Linked DNA regions of Homo sapiens. The protein of the gene in region 3 purifies or fractionates together with the protein of the main gene of each other region. This does not show direct contact. Each region holds a gene or a part of one and is shown on either strand. Other genes may lie near its edges.

Region 1 (3,523 bases), on a different chromosome or scaffold from region 3:
ATGATGACTTCTGAATTACGTCCTTTGTAAATTGTTACTGATACACCCATCCCTGTTATCAATCCCAATATGTCAATTCTCCTGCACGCAGCCCTGCTTCTCCCCCTTAATTCCCTGTCCCTGAGTGACCACATCATTCAACACGCTGTACAGAGCTCCTCCCCAGTCCCAAGTGTGGTTATTCGGCTGCCTCCTGCTGAGGTAGCCTCTCAAATTCTCTTAAATTTGCCCGCCCTCTTCTGAATTGCACCTACAACTGACACAATCGTCTTTCTAAAATGAAAATCTGTTCATAAAATTGAGGTTTTAAATCTAAGCAGTTTCTATTTACTTCAGCATATAATTCCAAGGTTCCCTAGTCCAGCCTGGCATAATGCAATCAGTGAGGTTCAAAAATCATGCCACCTGATATGCAGGGTGATGTTGTCTTAAAATTAGTGAACTGATTGCAGCAAGCTTGGCCATCCTATTGGCTGGAGGTTCTGAGAGGACTCCTCTAAGGCTCAAATACATCCCTGTCCTGGTAGCTGCTGGGTGCTGTTCCCGGAATTTGCCTGCTCTGGGTTTATCTACCTCAGAAGGTGACTCTGGATCCCAGGAATCTCCTGATGAATCCATTTCATTTTTGAACATCAGCCTGATCTACTACTGTTGTAATACTTGGGACACAGGGAGCCAACCTCTACTTTTCCTGGTGGCTTGGCTCCTCCTTCCCTCTATATCCTCTTTCTTTGGCTGAAATTAAAATATTTGAGAACAGGGAATGGACAGAGGCTGGGAGCCAGTTTCCAGGCCTATTATATCCAAAGCCAGGTTTTTGTGAGGTAAGTTATCTGGGTTTTAATGTGTTGGGTACAGGACTTTTCTGATTGGACCCCAACTTACATTTCAAGGCTCTTCCCCTGCCACTGTTTCCCTTAATCCCCTCCCTGATACACACAAACACACATACACATGTACACACACACACAAACATGCATGCAATCCACACACATGCAGGTGCCCAAGCACTCACATGTACACATGTGCACTCATGCACACAGATGTTCACACGCATGCACACGTATGAACCCAGTTGCACACACACCCTATGATCCAGGCCTATCACGCTCCATTCCCATGGGGCCTTCCTTGCTCTGTATTCTTCCAACCAACCATATGACCCAGATCTAAAATGCTATTTCCTTCTTTGCAGTTCAACACGATTTCTTAACAATCTAGTTCCCTTATAAAGCCTCTCGTTTAACCAAAACCACAATACTGTAGTTGGTGCTGGTGATGCAAAATGAGTAAAAGTGTGTTAGACTGCCTAGTGAGGGAAGCAATATTAAAGTCAGTGGAGAGCGTTTGACAAGGATGCTCCTGTGATGTTTTGTGGATAGTGGCAGCTCATGATGTCCTGTAAGTGTCTGGGTGTCTCAGCTGCCTCTTCTCAGGCTGTGGACCTCCTCAAGCCAAGCACCTTGCCCAGTACCAGGCAAGAATAGGTGGCCCATACATTTTTGTTAATTGCACGCATGCACCTTGAAGTGGAGTGTGACCTGTCCAAGCACTTATTGTAGAAATGCAGTAAGAGAAAACAAAATGCTTTTGCATTTGTGGGAACCTTTACCAAATGAGACTAAACTCAGTGTTTTGTGTTTGCAGGACTTTAAAGAATACTGTCAGAAGTTCTATCAGGCAGAGCTGGAGGAGTTGTCCTTTGCTGAAGACACTGAAGAGTGCAGGAAGCATATAAATGACTGGGTGGCAGAGAAGACTGAAGGTGAGACAGTTTCATTTCTGTTGATTTGGAATTACTATACAACGAGGCTTAGATTGACTGGGATGGGACTTCCCAGGGTGTTGCCACTGTGACCTGCATACCACAGGCCTGTTTGTATGTGTTTGCTGAGTTTACAGGCCAGCAATGCAACTCTGTCATTTCTTATCAGATCATGAAGTACTGATTTCTAAAACTAATGTTGAATCTCTGACCTCCTCCCCTGTGGACCGTGCTGGAAAATCCCTGGAAAATGGCTCCTCCTTGGAATTCTGTTAATCTTCTATCTGAGAGGCCCTTCCATGCTCGGAGACAGAATGGCATTCAATTAAGTTGCGGCTTAGAGAGGGCAACATTTCATGCTCTCATGTTATCTCCTCCGCGTGGTAATGGGACAGCTCAGTAGTTTGATCTGCAGCCTTCTCCTTCCTTTTTAACTTGGCCATGGCTACATTTGCTCTCAGAGTGTGGCCTTTTCTGAATTTGTTCCCTATTCTGGAGGTGCAGCGACATGGAGCCTGCAGTGTTCCCTGCCCAGACCACATTCCATCCCACCAGAAATATTTCTGCCAGTTCTTTACTTCAGTAGGAAAAAGGGGGAGTCATACTTTAAAGCATCCTAAATACCTAACAAGTAATTTCGATACTTGTAAACGGTGGAGGAATTAAGTCACTTATTTCAAGGGCCAACCTAGCACTCATTATTGCATCCATTCCATCCTATGTCGCAACCACTGTGTGTCCAGCAGAAGTAATGCCCCTGATTCTACTGAAAGCCAATACAATAATTACCATGGGAAGGGAAGAGCCTTTTGTGTTTTCATACATCATCTGCCTAGTGGTCTTTCCAGTTGTTCAACAGTACTGTCACCTGAGGAACCTAGAAGTTTCTCCACACCTTCCCCCCACTGCCCTATACCTGTCACTGCTCTTCCAGGGCTGCTTATGCCCTTCCTTCCCTTAGGCTGACCACCCACATTTCCCCCAGAATATTAGAGCTGAAGGGGACCTTGGAGATGACCTTGTTACCCTCTCATTGGACAACTCAATTTGGGCCCCTCTATTCTACCCCCCTAATTCCTTTGCCCCATTCACCCCCTTCAGAGAGGCTGCCTTCTCCCATTGACAGATCTGTGTTCTCTCATCCTTTGGAAAGCTTTCCTTGTCTGATGAGGTTTGAATATATGCATAGAGCAATGATCCTCAACCAGGGGTAGCTTTGCCCTCCAGGTGCCATTGGATAATGGCTGAAGACAATCTTGGTTGTCAAAATGGGAAGAAATGCTGCTGGCTAAACATCCTACAATGCACAAGACAGCCCCCATAACAAAGAATTATCTGGCTTAAAATGACAATAGCGGTGAGGCTTGGATATGATAGTGCCAAGGTTGACTGCCCCATAGTCAGAATCAAGACTCTGGGGTGATGTTCTCAACTCAGCCACTTGTCACCTGTGTGCACTCAGCAAAAGTCTGGCAAATGCTCTGGTCCTGAATTTCTACATCCATAAATTGAGGGCAAAATGATAGTTGCCCTTCCTACTTCAAGATTTTTTTCTTAAGCACAAATGTTACACTGTGTATGCCACACTGCTAAACACCATCGCCTAATTCATCAGGGGCCCAGAAAGACAGAACTCCAGCCTGTCTCTCAACCAAGCCTCTGCCTTATGTGTCAAAGGGATTTTTGTAAAAGAATGCTTATTTCCCCACAAATTGCAATAAACTCTCATATTCTTTATAGGTAAGATTTCAGAGGTAC
Region 2 (3,523 bases), on a different chromosome or scaffold from region 3:
ATTTAAGAAACCCAAGAGAAGGAGTTAGGAAGGGTAAGAGCTTTAAAGAAGGGAGGAATAAGGAGAGAATCTGCCGCATCACCGCATCTGAGCCTCCTCACATGCAGCTCCCCTCAAGCAGCACAATACCCAGCCCTTCTCCAGCAGAGATTAGGTGAGACCTTCCCTGCTTATCGCCTTTCCCAGAAAGAGCTAAGCAAATTTTTAAAAATATCTACTCAAATTATTATCCTCATTCTATAAATAAGAAAACAAACACTTAACAAGATTAAATAGCTTGTGGTCACGCACAGTGGTTTATGCCTATTATCCCAGCTTGAGGCCAAGTCGGTGGGGAGGATCGCTTGAGCTCAGGAGTTTGAGGCCAGCCTGGGCAACACGGTAAAACCCCAACTCTACAAAACCTGCAAAAATTAGCCAGGTGTAGTGGCACGTGGATCCGTGGTCCCAGCTATTCAGGAAGCTAAAGTAGGAGGATCATCTGAGCCCGGGGAGGTCAAGGCTGCAGTGAGCCATGATCGTGCCACTGCACTTCAGCCTGGGTGACAGAGTGAGACCCTGTCTCAAAAAAATGAATAAGTAAATAAATAAAAAGATTAAATAGCTTGCTCACGGTTACATGGCTCATCTGCAGCAGGACTGGAATTTGAACCCAGGACATTTAACTCTGGAGCTCATGTGCCACACCACTAACCTTGGCTACACAGAGGATGGATTTCTCAATGGACTGGCCTGCTCTCAAAAGAAAGTAGGAAGAGGCTGGGCACGCATAGGTCACGCTTGTAATCCCAGCACTTTGGGAGGTCAAGGCGGGTGGATCACTTGAGGCCAGGAGTTCAAGACCAGCCTGGCCAAACATGGTGAAACCCCATCTCTACTAAAAATACAAAAAGTAGCCAGGCATGGTGGCACATGCCTGTAGTCCCAGCTGCTCAGGAGGCTGAGATCACTTGAACCCAGGAGGTAGAGGTTGCAGTGAGCTGGGATTGCGCAACTACACTCCAGCCTGTACAACAGAGTAAGACTCTTGTCTCAAGAAAAAAAGAAAAGAAAAAAAAGGGAAAGAAGGAAGAATACCTCTGAGATCTTGCTCTAGTCAAGTCCTTTATCTTAGTAGAGACAGGGTTTCAGACTGGTCTCTAATTCCTGACCTCATGATCCACTCGCCTCAGCCTCCCAGAATGCTGGGATTACAAGCATGAGCCACTGCGCCTGGCCCCCACGCATATTTCATACAGTGTATAAGAGAAGAAGAAGACAAAAACTTAGGGGAGACTAATAAGATCCTGCAGAGGAAGACTAATGAATCCTATAAATAGATTTTTTTTTTAACACTCAAGATTTTTAATCCTTGCCCTGGAATAGCAATGTAAGTGATCTCTCTAGAAAAGTTTATACAAGTCTTTCTTGCACTGAGTGTGTCCTGAATTGAACAAGTTATCCTGCAGGATCTACGCCTCGCCCTCTGCTTGGGACAGGTACAGACAAGGTAGTGAACAGAAGAAAGCAGTGCCTCTGGAGTGCAACTGCCTGGTTCAAATCTCAGTCCTGCCACTTATTAGCATGCACCTTGGGCAATTTACTTAGTCTCCATGGCTTAGTTTCTTCATCTGTAAAATGGGATTAATAATGGCATACCAATACCTAGCTCATTGATTTGTTGTAAACATGAAATAATATCAAATAAACCACGTGCCTAGAATAGTGCCCAATAGAGTAAACTTCTTACAAAAGACGTTGGGCTGCCTACTAGTCCTCACCACAGGAAATGGCTTTCCCAGATGGATTTGGTGACACAGTAAGAGGCCCAGAGATCTTTTAGTCCAGTAGTATCAAATTTCAGTGTGTATCAGAATAATCAGGAGGGCTTGTCAAAACACAAATTTCTGGCCCACCCTCCCAGAGTTTCTCATTCAGTAGGTGTGGGCTGGGAGTCAGAATCTGCGTTTCCAACAAGTTCCCATGTGATGCCAATGCTCCTGATCTGGGAACTATGCTTTGAGAACCATGTTCCAGTCCACATTCTCTTTTTCTTTTTGAGGCAGGGTCTCACTCGGTCACCCAGGTTGGGGTGCAGTGGTGCAATCACGGCTCACTGCAGGCTTGACCTCCTGGGTTCAAGTGATCCTCCAACCTCAACCACCCAAGTAGCTGGGACTACAGGCATGCACTAACAAGCCTGATTAATTTTTCATATTTTTTTTGTAGAGATGGGGTTTCACCATGTTGCCCAGGGTGGTCTCAAACTCCTGGGCCCAAACGATCTGCCCGCCTCGGCCTCCCAAAGTGCTGGGATTACAGGCATGAGCCACTGCACCCAGGCTTCATCTGTATTCTCATTCTACAGACATGAAAACTGAGGCCCAGACCAGCTAAGCATTTTGATCACGGTCACCCAGAGCCACAGTGGAGATCAGGAGAAAACTGATTCCCAGGCCAGTGCTCTTTTGCTTCTACTCGGTCAGAGGTGTGGGGTCCTTCGAGACAGTGGTTGGCTGCAGGCTCCTGGACAGATCCGCACCTTCATAGCTGTGTGAAGGAGATTTCCCACGTTGGCATAGCAGCCACTGGGGAGCTGGTTTCCTGCCATCCACTTGAGAGCATCCTGGATGTTCTTGGGATCAATGAAGATGAATTTCTGAGCTTGGCCAAAGCATTTTGTGACAAACGCTGTCAGCCTACATGGGTAAAGAGGAAAATATGGCATGAAGAGGAATTTCCAGGTGAGGGTGCAATCATTTCTTCATTTATTTGGGTGTATACTTCCAGAAGGGGAGCTGAGGGAACATATGCCATAGCAGGCCTAGAAAAGAGAGGCATTAATGGGCACCAATGAGGACAAGAACAGGGGAGGCACAAGCTCAGGAAGATCGAGGGACTTGACCATCCATGAGGGTGAAATAAACAGTATTAAAGAGGTAGAAGACTGAGTGCAAGAAGGAAAGGGGTTAAGGGGAGAGGTAGTGGAATAGTTCCAGAGGGCTCAGGAATTATGCTCTGGAGTACAGAACTCATTGGGAATTGGGTGATATTACCATGTGTTTCCATTTCCATCTCGCTCCCCAAAGGCACTGTATGAGCCATTGCTGTGTTTGTACATCAGCTCCTTCTGGTACCCTGGGAAGCCAAATGTGGTTTTAGATCACAGCGACAACTTCAGAAAACACCCCCATGCCGTTCAAGGATATGGGACACTTGAGGGGCTGGAATTCCCTGTATCATCAATCTGTCATAGGGCCTAGTGGAGGAGAGTGTTCAAGAAAGAAAGACTGAACCAACTTACCTATTTCCAGGAAACCCACTGCCCGAGACCTGATCTCCTCCGTCAGCAGCCCTGCCTTCTCCAGGTACTGCAAGACATAGATGATGGGAGCAAACAAGACCATGTTCTGCTCGCCACAGCCACTGGGCATCTGCACCAGACCATCCAGGTTCTGCAGGGCTGTGCCCATAATGTCTCCTGGGATCCAAAAGGAGAGAGAGAAGGTAGGGGTACAGAGAAGAAGGGACCCTCTAAGAGTTA
Region 3 (3,372 bases):
CTATGAGAGAACAGCAGATTCAAACTTCCCATCTCACCTTCAATAAGATGCACACTCACTTTAATAGCATACAAAATTACCCACACAATTTAAATGTTTATATTTCTGGGTTTTTTGCCAAGCATGTATAACAAGTTGCATTAACAGCGATATGACTCTACTCATTTTGGAGGACTAACAGTAAAACATGGTCTTGGAGAAAGATTATAAAAAGGTCCCTAAGCTGGTCGGGTGTTAATGGCTCATGCCTGTAATCCCAGCACTCTGGGAGGGAGAGGTGGGTGGATCAGGAGTTTGAGACCAGCCTGGCCAACATGGCGAAACCCCATCTCTACTAAAAATATAAAACTTAGCTGGGCATGGTGGCAGCTGCCTGTAGTCCCAGCTACTCGGGAGGCTGAAGCACGAGAATCACTTGAACCCAGGACGCAGAGGTTGCAGCGAGCCAAGATCACACTACTGCACTCCAGCCCGGGCAACAGAGCGAGACTCCATCTCAAAAAAAAAAAAAAAAAGGGTCCCTAAGGTGCTCTTCTCAGTGTCAAAGTATATGTGAAACTCTGCCTTGTACTGATATTTAGAAATGGTAAGATCATTTTACTTTTTATGTAAGATTGTTAAAAATTTCTGCTGAAAGTAGATAAATTGTAAAAATAAAAAAAAATCTGACTTCGTTCTTTGGAGATCGAAGACTGAGCTTTAGGTAGAGAATTTCAGAGGGTTTACTGCACACGCTTTGAAATTCTTGACAAAGTTAAAGGTTTGCATTTTACATGGGTAACAAATCTATGTGAGAGAAGGCAAGAAAATCCTCCTCTATTCACACTGAATGACAGGAAAAGATGTCACTTAAGAAAGTAAACAGAGCAGGGCCAAATTTAATCTAACTTTACACCCTCCCTGGATCTGATTAGCTGGCAAACATGCTCCAAGTTCTTTGTTTACAACCACTTGCAGGTCGTAAGTATCAGTACCCTCCATTTCTTTTGTTAACAAAAAGGAAGGGATTTGCAGTGTAGTTCCTAAGCAAACAAAAGCATGCTCAAGGCCAGGTGTGGTGGCTCACTCCTGTAATCCCAGCACTTTGGGAAGCCGAGGCAGGCAGATCACCTGAGGTCAGGAGTTCAAGACCAGCCTGGCCAACATGGTGAAATCCCATCTCTACTAAAAAAATACAAAAATTAGCTGGGCACAGTGGCAGGCGCCTGTAATCCCAGCTACTCAGGAGGCTGAGGCAGGAGAATCTCTTGAACCCAGGAGGCAGAGGTTGCAGTGATCTGAGATTGCGCCACTGCACTCCAGCCTGGTGACAAAGTGAGACTCCGTCTCAAACAAAAAACAAAAAACAAAAAAAAAACATCCTCAAGTCCAAGTGCTTTCTTCCTTTAATGGGATGCTCATATTTTTGGTTTTATACATTTCTCCAAGAAAAGGGTCTCAGTTTCCATTCCAAAGATCTCCATACATCTTCCAAATCAAAGAATGTTAGAATGAACCCCAGAGATTTGTAATCTCTTTTTAGGCCCTATTTCTACAATCCATCCCTCCAAAATTCAAACACAGATACTGACATTTTCTCTTAGTCACATAAGGCACAAATGTATACACCTTGGAGCTCCACATTATATGTTTGTATACAATTGCCAACTGATCTGAACTCGAGTGGCCAACATCAACTTTTACCCGTATATACCTGCCGAGACTTCATTCTCACACTTTCAGAAATGCATGAAGTTCAGCAGCTGTAGTTAGCACGGTGACAGAAGAACATAACAATGAGCTGTGGGTTTTTATGAACGCTACCTAACGTTAACTCACTGGAGGAAGAAATATTATCTATGTAATTTTTTCCAAACCATATCACTGCAACTTACCTATAACTATTAAGTCATTCATATATTTAACCTCCCTATAGCTAATTTTTAGCATAGGCTTTTAAAAATCTTTAACCACTTACCACTGATCTTTTACACTCAAAAAATGCGTACTTCAAAGAGTTGCAGTATCCTTCCTTCAAACACTGCCGAGGTGATTTTCCTTCCTATGACAGACACATAAAACAATATAAACACCTTGGAAATTTTCTCACAAAGTACAAAATAATTGTCCTTCTGAAAATAGTCCTTTTTAAAAGTGTTAAAGGAGGAAAATAGAAAGTTATGTAGGAAATAGTTCTTAATTCATTTGGGCTATTGGTGCCTAAAGAATGAAAAAAAAATTGTAAAGTAACTTGGGAACTTTAAGGACACTGTTGAATTCTTGAAAACACTGGTTTCTATTGGATACTTTTCCTTAAACTGTTTATATAAAAATCTAGAAAGGGTTATCTTCATTTCCTTATGGGTGAAATGTGTGAACTGGGTACCCTAAAATCAGAATATTTTTAGTGTTGGCACGAAACACTTCACAAAGATATTAACAAGGCAGGCTGGAATACTACTTAAATAGAAACATGTGGCCCATTCATGCACCAGAAAAAATATAACCCAAAGCTCATCTGCTCTGCATAATCAGGGATTTTCCCTCAAGCAGATTTTGACTCTACAGCCGCATCACTGCAGCCACTCCCCAGAACCTTTATGTTGCAAGTGCCAGGCACGCTCTGCCAGTTTTTCCTATGAAAAGCTACAGGGTACTATGTCTGTGGTATTCCTGTTCCCCAGGAGTCTTGGCCACCTTCCAGTCTGTATGTCTGCCTGGGTCCTAGATATCAAATGTCATCTACCTCAGTGACTCTCAAAAGTGGATAAGAGTAGCAGGTTTCCTTCCTCTCCAAACTCTGCAATTCTGCTGGTGGGATGTGTTGCCCACATGAACGACGTGGAGGCAGACAAAAGAAGACTAACCATATAAAAGGTTATAACTATAGTTTATAAGCTGATGCCTCTTCAAACTGTATCTAAGATGCTACCTTTTTCAAAAGCTTTCAACCTATATTGTCAACTGCCTGGGGTAAAGATCCATCTAGATACACTAAAGCTAAGAGACAGTCATTCGTTATCCACTCCACCCCAAATAACAGACTGCTAGCTGTCTGCTCTTCCTTTTTATCCAGCATATGGCTGGGTGAGATCTCCTAGACGCCCTTGCATCTAGCTGTGGTCCTGTGACTAAGTTCTAGCCACTGGAATGTGTGGGAAACAGGTGTAGAACTTCTGGGTTGGTCCTTAAAGAGGCTTGCCCCTTTCCTCACTTCACTCCATAAGGTTGCCGGGCCTGATGATGTGGAAGCAAACCAGTCTTGGACCATGAATATGAGAGTAACACCCTACTTGCTATATTTTCCTATTTTCACAGCACAGAGTCACAAGATCAACAGTGTCTGCGTTCATGGAAGACTGAGGGAAATGACTAGGCCCTGATTATAGGCAC
Region 4 (4,043 bases), on a different chromosome or scaffold from region 3:
AAAAAAAAAAGCCAATTGGGATGGTATGTGTTTAGGACTTAGCACACACAGTGCCAGGCATATGCTTAAGTTTTCAGGAAACAATAGCTATGATTGTTGGTATTATTTTTACTGATAAAAGGAAGGCAAAGGGTCAGGTGCCATGGCTCATGCCTGTAATCCCAGCACTTTGGGAGGCCGAGGCAGCAGGACTGCTTAAGCCCAGAAGTTTGAGACTAGATTGGGCAACACAGTGAGACCCTACCACTAAAAAAAAAAAAAAAAAAAAAAAGGAAAGCAAAAAGCTGGGGCTCAAAGCTCTCTGCATTAGGCACCGTACTCATCTGCCCTTCTGGAAGACTCCCATACCCCTGTCCCCTCAAGGGAACCCCCTCTGCTGTGAGAAGAAGGAATAGAAAAGGAGACTGCCCTCCCCGCTCTGTGTGATGTATCCCCTTCTTCAGGACCCCCCACTCCCCTCACAGGGTCCGGCTATCTCATTCAGCCTCGTGGATTCAGACTCTCTGTGCACCTCCATATCCCAGCCCAGATTGGACCCCTTCTCTCTGCTCCCCAGTTATTAACCGAAGTGGGGGAGATAGGAGACAGCACCCCTCTGAAAGGAAGACGTGCAGAGCAGGGGGCCTCTCTGGATGGGCTCCAGGTCTAAGCTCCACACACCCACCTCACCTGGCCTGATCTGCCGCCCTGTCCTGGAGTAGAGCCAGGGATGCACTAGGCGGGGGTGAAAGGGCCCTCTGCCAGGTAGCAGGATTTCCCTGCCCCTGATCTGGCCAACTCCCTGGACCTCCTCCAGACCTGGGTTCCTAGAGAAACAAATCCTCTTTCCCCTCAGTGCCAAAGCATACCTACCCTACTGCAAACAGAAGAGAGAGGGAGAGAGGAAGCCTTGCCCCTGGGGAGCCCAGGACCCCCATTGTTGGCTGCTGAACTCTTGTGTCTAGGAAGAAATGACAGGTCCCCAAGTCTTATTGAGATGGACCCTTGACTAGAGCTAAGAGGGGTGTGCCAGGACCGAAGTTCCTGCAGAGGCAAGGCTGGGTTCAGAGGAGACATCCTTTCAGCGAGCCCCTGGTGCCTGTGGAGCTGAGGGCCCAGCTTAGCCGGCCTTAGCTGGCTCAGGACTGTGTTTGTCTAATGGATCTGTTTTTAATCTGCCCCCTGCAGGGCCTGAGGAGGGCACGTGGCTCAGAGAGACCCTGCAGGGAGGACAAACAGACTGAAGACAGACAGCAGGATTGGGGCCTTGAATCTTACTCTTCAGCTGGGGCCTGGGGGTGTACCAGACCACCACCTCATCCACTGAGGACAGGGGCCAGAATCCAGAGAAGATGAGGAGGGAGTGGCATCTAGGCTTTCCAAAGAGAAAATTTCTTTTTGTCTTTAAGTTTAGCAAGGACAGAGCAAGAAAGACTGATATGACTCCAAGAAGTATTGTGGTTAGATCGCAGGAAGAACTAACGGCAAGGACTGATGGAGATCCCTGCTCTCTCTGCAGCATTCCAGACCTGTCTTAGATCCAGACTCACTCCTATAGTCCAGGGAGAGGGGTGCCTTCCCTCCCTCCCCTCTCGCCCAACCCAGCCGAACTACCGTCTCTCTGTTGAGTGCAGGAATTGAAGGCAGCAGGCCTGCCCTTACGCTCCCAGTGGCTGGGGTCCTTAACTAACGTCCATCTCTCCCCCAGAGTCCTCTCCCAGTCACCAGGTCCTGGCACTCTCCCCTGCCCCAGATGTCTAGCCCAGTTGGCCCAGAGGGCACACAGAAGGTGGGCTGGAAAAGTGGGAAAGGCAGTCTGGATTGACTTAGTTTTCCCCACCTTTGACCAACACACCCAATTGGGCTGCAGCCGATCTATGGTCGGGGGAGGTAGGTGGGAACCTAGATTTTTGGAAATGTGGGATTGGGGTTTCACACGAAACCATTTGTTGAAATCCAAGAAAGTGATAATTATCCCTAGCGATTTTAGAACTCTGGAGCTGCTCGCTGTATGAAAATACTTGTCTCACAGATGGGGGGTGGGGAGAGCAGAGTGGAAAGTGCAGAGGGGGAGGAAAGTGGGGCTCAGGGGGCGCTGGGGCAGCAGATCACCTCGCAGGCAGAGCTGGGCGCCGAGGGGTAATGAGCCTGCCCTGGGGATTGGGTTACCGAGGGGGGCACCGGGAAGGAGATTGGAATGTCTCCGAGCGGCTGGGCAGGGTAGGGAACCGGGCTCCCAGTCTGGATGCAGGGTTCGTGGCTCCACCAGCCCGCAGCTTCTGAACTGCAGAGAGCCAGGTGCCTCGGCCCGCCGAGTCCGGCCGCTGAGGCCAGCCTCCCCTTCCCCCAGAGGCCAACCTCGCGCTTCTGGTTTCTACGTGATTCACAGGCCGTGAGTCACCGCAGTGTTGGCACCGGTGGGCCCCCGCAGGAGAAAGCGGGATTTAGGCGTCGTGCCCAGAGCCCCGGGACCCGGACGCCTGGCACGTTTTTCGGGGATGCAGGCACCCAGTGTCTCACGCCCTGATTGTGGTCCCGCTGTCTTTCTCATCCCCAACTTCGAGGACTCCAGAGCCCCCCCTTGCCCCACCTGGGCCCTCGAACATTTCCTTACCCAGCACTTTGAGCAATTCCTCGAAGTTTTCCGATCGGATGATTTTCCAGTTGCCAGAGAAGTTGGGCATGGTGGCGGCGCGGGAGGCGGTCCCCGTAGACTCCTAGGCTGGAGCACTGGACACTGTCTTTTAGTCAAAAGAGACGTCGCCGTCGCCGGGTCGTCAGGTTCTGGAACCAAGACAAGTCCAGGGACAACCCCAAAGCTGGCCTGGGCTCCCGCGCGGACAGCTTTTATACCCTGTACGGAACCGCCCCTGCCCAGGATTGAAGTGGCCCCGCCTCCCGCTCCGCCCCCCCCCACCTGGGGGGCCCTGCGCCCCCGCCACCAACCTCTGGATCTAGCCCGCGTGTGGGTCCAGGCTTCTCTGGGGACCGAGATAGCCTTCTCCTGCGCTAGTAAGTGGATGGGGAAGCGGACGCAAAGCCAGCACTTGAATCGCGCTCTCCGCAGAGGCGGGGGGAGCTAGCTGCGGGCGCAGATGCTCAGGGCTCGTGTATGGCTGTCCCCCACCCGAGTTCCTCACGTCTCGCCTGTTCCCCACCCATCCCCAACCTGACTCGGTGCATTCAACTCCTTGGTGCCGGACACCTGGCGACCCCACCCGCAGGCGGACCCCAGATCTTGAGCCGTAGCTGGCCCTAGCTCCATTGAACCCTGAACTGGATCCAGTGGGACCACTCCGTACTCAGAGAGGGGCTTGGGAGCTGCGGGGTTCCGGGGGTTAGGGATCTAAGTGAGGCAACGGCGCCCCCTGCTGGAACAACTCGGAGAGGCTGGGCGGGGGCGGCACGGTCCCCCCACCCCTCCACCCTGCTTCGGGCTCACGTAATGCCTGGGGACTCTGGAAGTAGTCGCCAGGCGACTCGCTCCCCTTAATGCGCTGGGCGGACATTGAAGGGTTAAGCAGGAGCCCAGGGCGCGAGGCTGGGAGGGCAGAGGTCACAGCCAATCACTTGACGCAAGGTCTTTATTAAAACGCTTTCTCTGTCGCTTCACTCCCGAGACCCCGAGGGGGTCTCAGTAGGGGGAAGGGAGGGAGGCGGGGACAGAGGCGCGGAGCCCTGGCGAGCTGCGCCACCACCTAGATAGGCGGGAGGATGGGTGCCGGGGGAGAAGGCGGAGCAGGGTCTCAGGTGTCACCATCCTGAGCTGTAAAACGGGCGGAAGGAGCGACCTCCCCTCCCTTGGAGAGCGGCTTTGAAACGGGAGATCAAAGAGGGTGGGAGGAGGGCACGGCTTCCTGCAGAGACCCGAGTGGGAGTGGGCGAGACCCCAGTGGAGATGGCAGGGAGACGGAGAAACAGAAACGGAGGTCAGGCGGGGAGCCTCGGGGACAGGCCTGGGACCCGAGGCCGGAAACCGCAGAGGAGCGAAGCCTGGCGGGATGCAGTGATTGGAGCCAAAGGAACCGTCCCGGCCTGTCCAACGCGGGGGGGCCTTCGGCCCG
Region 5 (3,180 bases), on a different chromosome or scaffold from region 3:
CATGAAAGTGTGGCCTGTAACTTTACAAATTCCCAACACGTCTGTTTTTGTGAAAGAGACAGGAGCTCGGTGTGGTGGGTCACATCTGTAATCTCAGCACTTTGGGAGGCCAAGGCAAGAGGATTGCTTGAGACCAGGACTGTGAGACCAGCCTCGGCAACATAGCAAGACCCAATCTCTACCGAAAAATAAGAAAATTAGCCAGGTGTGGTGATGCACACCTGTAGTCCCAGCTACATGAGAGGCTGAGGTGGGAGGATTGCTTGAGCCCAGGAGGTCGAGGGTGCAGTGAGCTATGATGGTGCCACTGTACTCCAGCCTGGGTGGCAGAGCAAGATCTCATCTCTTAAAGAAAAAAAAAAGGAAAGAAGACACAGGCTGAAGCTCCTGATTCTCCATTCATGATAGACACACCTGGGAGGAAGCCAGCCACTGGGAAAAAAGAAATTAAATCCATAACTCCTTTTGTATCAGCCTCACTGTTTCAGCACAGAACAAAGATTTCAACACTTTCTTTCAAAGTTTGACAACTGTTTATTGAACACTCATTATGCAGATTAAGGGCTTGTTCCCTGCCCTCCAGAAGTGGTCATTTCCAGCATCTAATCCTGGGTGAGAGGGAAGGATCAATCAGAAAAAAGAGAGGAAATGGCTTTCTGGAAAAAGTAGGGGTGGGAGGTAGTGGAAGAGGGGTAAAGGGAGAGGGAGGGCCCTCCAGCTTGGGGGAAATGGTGATAGCAAAGGCTTAGAGGCAAGGGTGAGTAAGAAGACATTAGCCTTTTTGAAAGAGTGAATTCATGGTGGAAGAGATGGGAGATGGGTTTAGCTAAGTGCTGGTAGATGGCAAAATTGGAAGGGTGTGAGAGATCCTGATGTGCGGTTTGACTTTGGTCTTTATTTGATTGATTGATTTATTTTGGAGACCGGATCTCACTGTCTCACCTAGAGCTGGGATGCACTGGCATGATCATAGCTCCTTGCAGCCTCAAACTCCTGGGCTCAAGTCATCCTCCCACCTCAGCCTCCTGAGTAGCTGGGACTACAGGCATGTGCCACCATACCCAGTTAATTAATTTTTTTTTTTAGAGACAGGGTCTTGCTGTGTTGCCCAGGCTGGTCTCTTAACTCCTGGCCTCAAGTGATCCTCCCGCTTCAGACTCTCAAAGTCGGGAATACAGGTGTGAGCCACTGTCCAGTACCCTGGTCTTTAAATAATATGGTATGTTGTGTCTTCTTGAGTGTTCCAGGGAGATCACTGTTATAGATGGTATGGAGGACACATGAAAAGTGGGATGGAAAAGCAGAGAGGCAAGGGAGGAAGTTGGTTGCAAAGATGCAGATATGAGAAGCTGAGGACTTGAGCCTGGACAGTAACATGTCAGGGAAGAGAAGACCGGCATGAAAGTTGTTTCAAAATCAGGCTGGACTGGGCATGGTGTCTGGTGGCATATGAAGGATGCAAGAAGAGAGGGGTCATAGATTGACTGCAGAAATCTGAACCTGGGATCTGAGGTTGAGGATACCAGGGAACGCTTGGAGGAGTAACCGGGAAGAAAAGCCCTGAGTTTTTAGTGACGCTGGATGTGCCCGTAGGTTACTTGAGCAGGAAAGGTCAAAGCTGGGGATGGAGAGATACAGGCTGTAGAGTTGGAAGATAGTGAAGCCGATCTGACTTCCAGCCTGGTGCTGCAAGGTTACCTGGAGGTAACCTTGGCTGGTGGTTATTGAAAATTTCTAGAAACTTCCAGAAAGCTCCTACCTTGGAGATAGGGAAAATTTTTATTAGTCATCTTCACTAATTAGAAAAGTTTTCAGATGGATCAGGATTTAGCAGGTTGTGGAAAAGAGGCTGGGCTGGAAGTCAAACCTTGTCCTTGCCTCTGTCTTACTGTATTGCATTTGACAAATTATTTAACCTCTCTGGTTATGAGAGGTTAAATATTATGTTGTCTGCAAAATAGCAAGGTGACAACAGGGAATTTGCCATAGCTCCAACACGCTCTCATTTAGAGTAATTGAATGCAAGAATAGTTGAATAGATGGATTTTCTTGGAGAGAGGGCAGAGTCCAGGGTTTCAGGGGAGGGGTGTTAGGAGGAAGAGATCCAGAAAGGAGGAGACAACTTTATTATCTAGAGAGGCCATGAGCTAGGAAGAGAACGGAGTTAGGACACCAACTTGCCAGCCAAGGAGGAGTGGTTTTGGAGAGAAAGAATGGTTCTTACCTTACTAACTCTCCAGGGTAAAGGAAAGAACTGGAAGTTGGGAATGCATTGGCCTCAGGAGGAGGTTTGACCTCCAAGTGAGATGCAGGAGCCAGCAGAGGTTGGATTGGGGTAGGAGGGGATGAGTGGGCTTTGGTTTGTCTATGGAAAATCTTGAGCTTTATCCAGTTTCTGCTTCATGGGAGAAAGAAGACCACAGGAACAGAAAGTGGGATAAGTGAATGCACTCTTAGGTCTCTTCGGTTGCATTAATAAAGATAGAAAGTCCAGCCTGAGGGAGGTGATGTTAATGTTGCCACCATGCCTTGTGCTAAGTTTTGGCTGGCTTGCTCTAATAAGGACAGGAGGACCTGCATGAAGGGTGTGATGGAAAAGAAACTGGGTGCCATTTGGCCTTGGGAACAGAAGATCTTGGGGAGAGGTAAGAGCTGCCTCTAAATTTCTGTGAGACAGAAAGAATGCTGGAAGGAAAGCTCCTCCTGGTCTTTCTACTTCTACTGCAGATACAGCCGTTTCCGGAGGGTGCTTTGGATTTCAGGGTTCGTTTTCCTTGCTTTTCCTTCTTGAACCAGCTCTGCTTCTGCCATCCGCCGGGTCACCTGCAGCAACAGGTGTGGTGAGCTTGGAGGAGTCAGTGTCATGGACTTATGGGGGGAGGGTTAGGGAACGGGGCAGGTGGGTATTCTTGTCCTAAGATGAGAGACCGTTGTGGCCTCTTCCTATACCATAGTTTGTATGGAATCCTTGGCTGGGCATTTTTTAAATAATTTGCAATAAAAACATATAAACATTAAAAGAAAACAGTTTGCCCAAACATTGTTTATATCCAAGGGGGATTTGTTTATAGAAATTTATCTCCCATACTGTGGCTTTTAAGAGTCCCTGCATTTGGGAAAGTTGTTGGAAAGTGGGCTTCTTAGTTTCTGTATTGAGATCTGGCTTGGATTTGGAGCTGA

The links.
Region 1: the proteins of COA5 (region 3) and SERPINB8 purify together in Homo sapiens (affinity purification with mass spectrometry; one large-scale study listed by BioGRID and IntAct). This does not show direct contact.
Region 2: the proteins of COA5 (region 3) and A2ML1 purify together in Homo sapiens (affinity purification with mass spectrometry; one large-scale study listed by BioGRID and IntAct). This does not show direct contact.
Region 4: the proteins of COA5 (region 3) and CRABP2 purify together in Homo sapiens (affinity purification with mass spectrometry; one large-scale study listed by BioGRID and IntAct). This does not show direct contact.
Region 5: the proteins of COA5 (region 3) and CASP14 purify together in Homo sapiens (affinity purification with mass spectrometry; one large-scale study listed by BioGRID and IntAct). This does not show direct contact.

The regions. Positions count from the first base shown.
Region 1 is NC_000018.10:63,980,074-63,983,596, forward strand, and holds part of SERPINB8 (serpin B8), read left to right. Parts: intron 1-1,647; coding exon 1,648-1,765; intron 1,766-3,505; coding exon 3,506-3,523. UniProt on the Homo sapiens protein: Has an important role in epithelial desmosome-mediated cell-cell adhesion.
Region 2 is NC_000012.12:8,857,101-8,860,623, reverse strand, and holds part of A2ML1 (alpha-2-macroglobulin-like protein 1 isoform 1 precursor), read right to left. Parts: intron 3,461-3,523; coding exon 3,284-3,460; intron 3,118-3,283; coding exon 3,036-3,117; intron 2,679-3,035; coding exon 2,522-2,678; intron 1-2,521. UniProt on the Homo sapiens protein: Is able to inhibit all four classes of proteinases by a unique 'trapping' mechanism. This protein has a peptide stretch, called the 'bait region' which contains specific cleavage sites for different proteinases.
Region 3 is NC_000002.12:98,602,151-98,605,522, forward strand, and holds part of COA5 (cytochrome c oxidase assembly factor 5), read right to left. Parts: intron 2,042-3,372; coding exon 1,958-2,041; intron 1-1,957. UniProt on the Homo sapiens protein: Involved in an early step of the mitochondrial complex IV assembly process.
Region 4 is NC_000001.11:156,702,784-156,706,826, forward strand, and holds the start of CRABP2 (cellular retinoic acid-binding protein 2), read right to left. Parts: upstream 2,801-4,043; 5' UTR 2,664-2,800; coding exon 2,594-2,663; intron 1-2,593. UniProt on the Homo sapiens protein: Transports retinoic acid to the nucleus. Regulates the access of retinoic acid to the nuclear retinoic acid receptors.
Region 5 is NC_000019.10:15,055,628-15,058,807, reverse strand, and holds the end of CASP14 (caspase-14 precursor), read right to left. Parts: intron 2,824-3,180; coding exon 2,719-2,823; 3' UTR 515-2,718; downstream 1-514. UniProt on the Homo sapiens protein: Non-apoptotic caspase involved in epidermal differentiation. Is the predominant caspase in epidermal stratum corneum. Seems to play a role in keratinocyte differentiation and is required for cornification.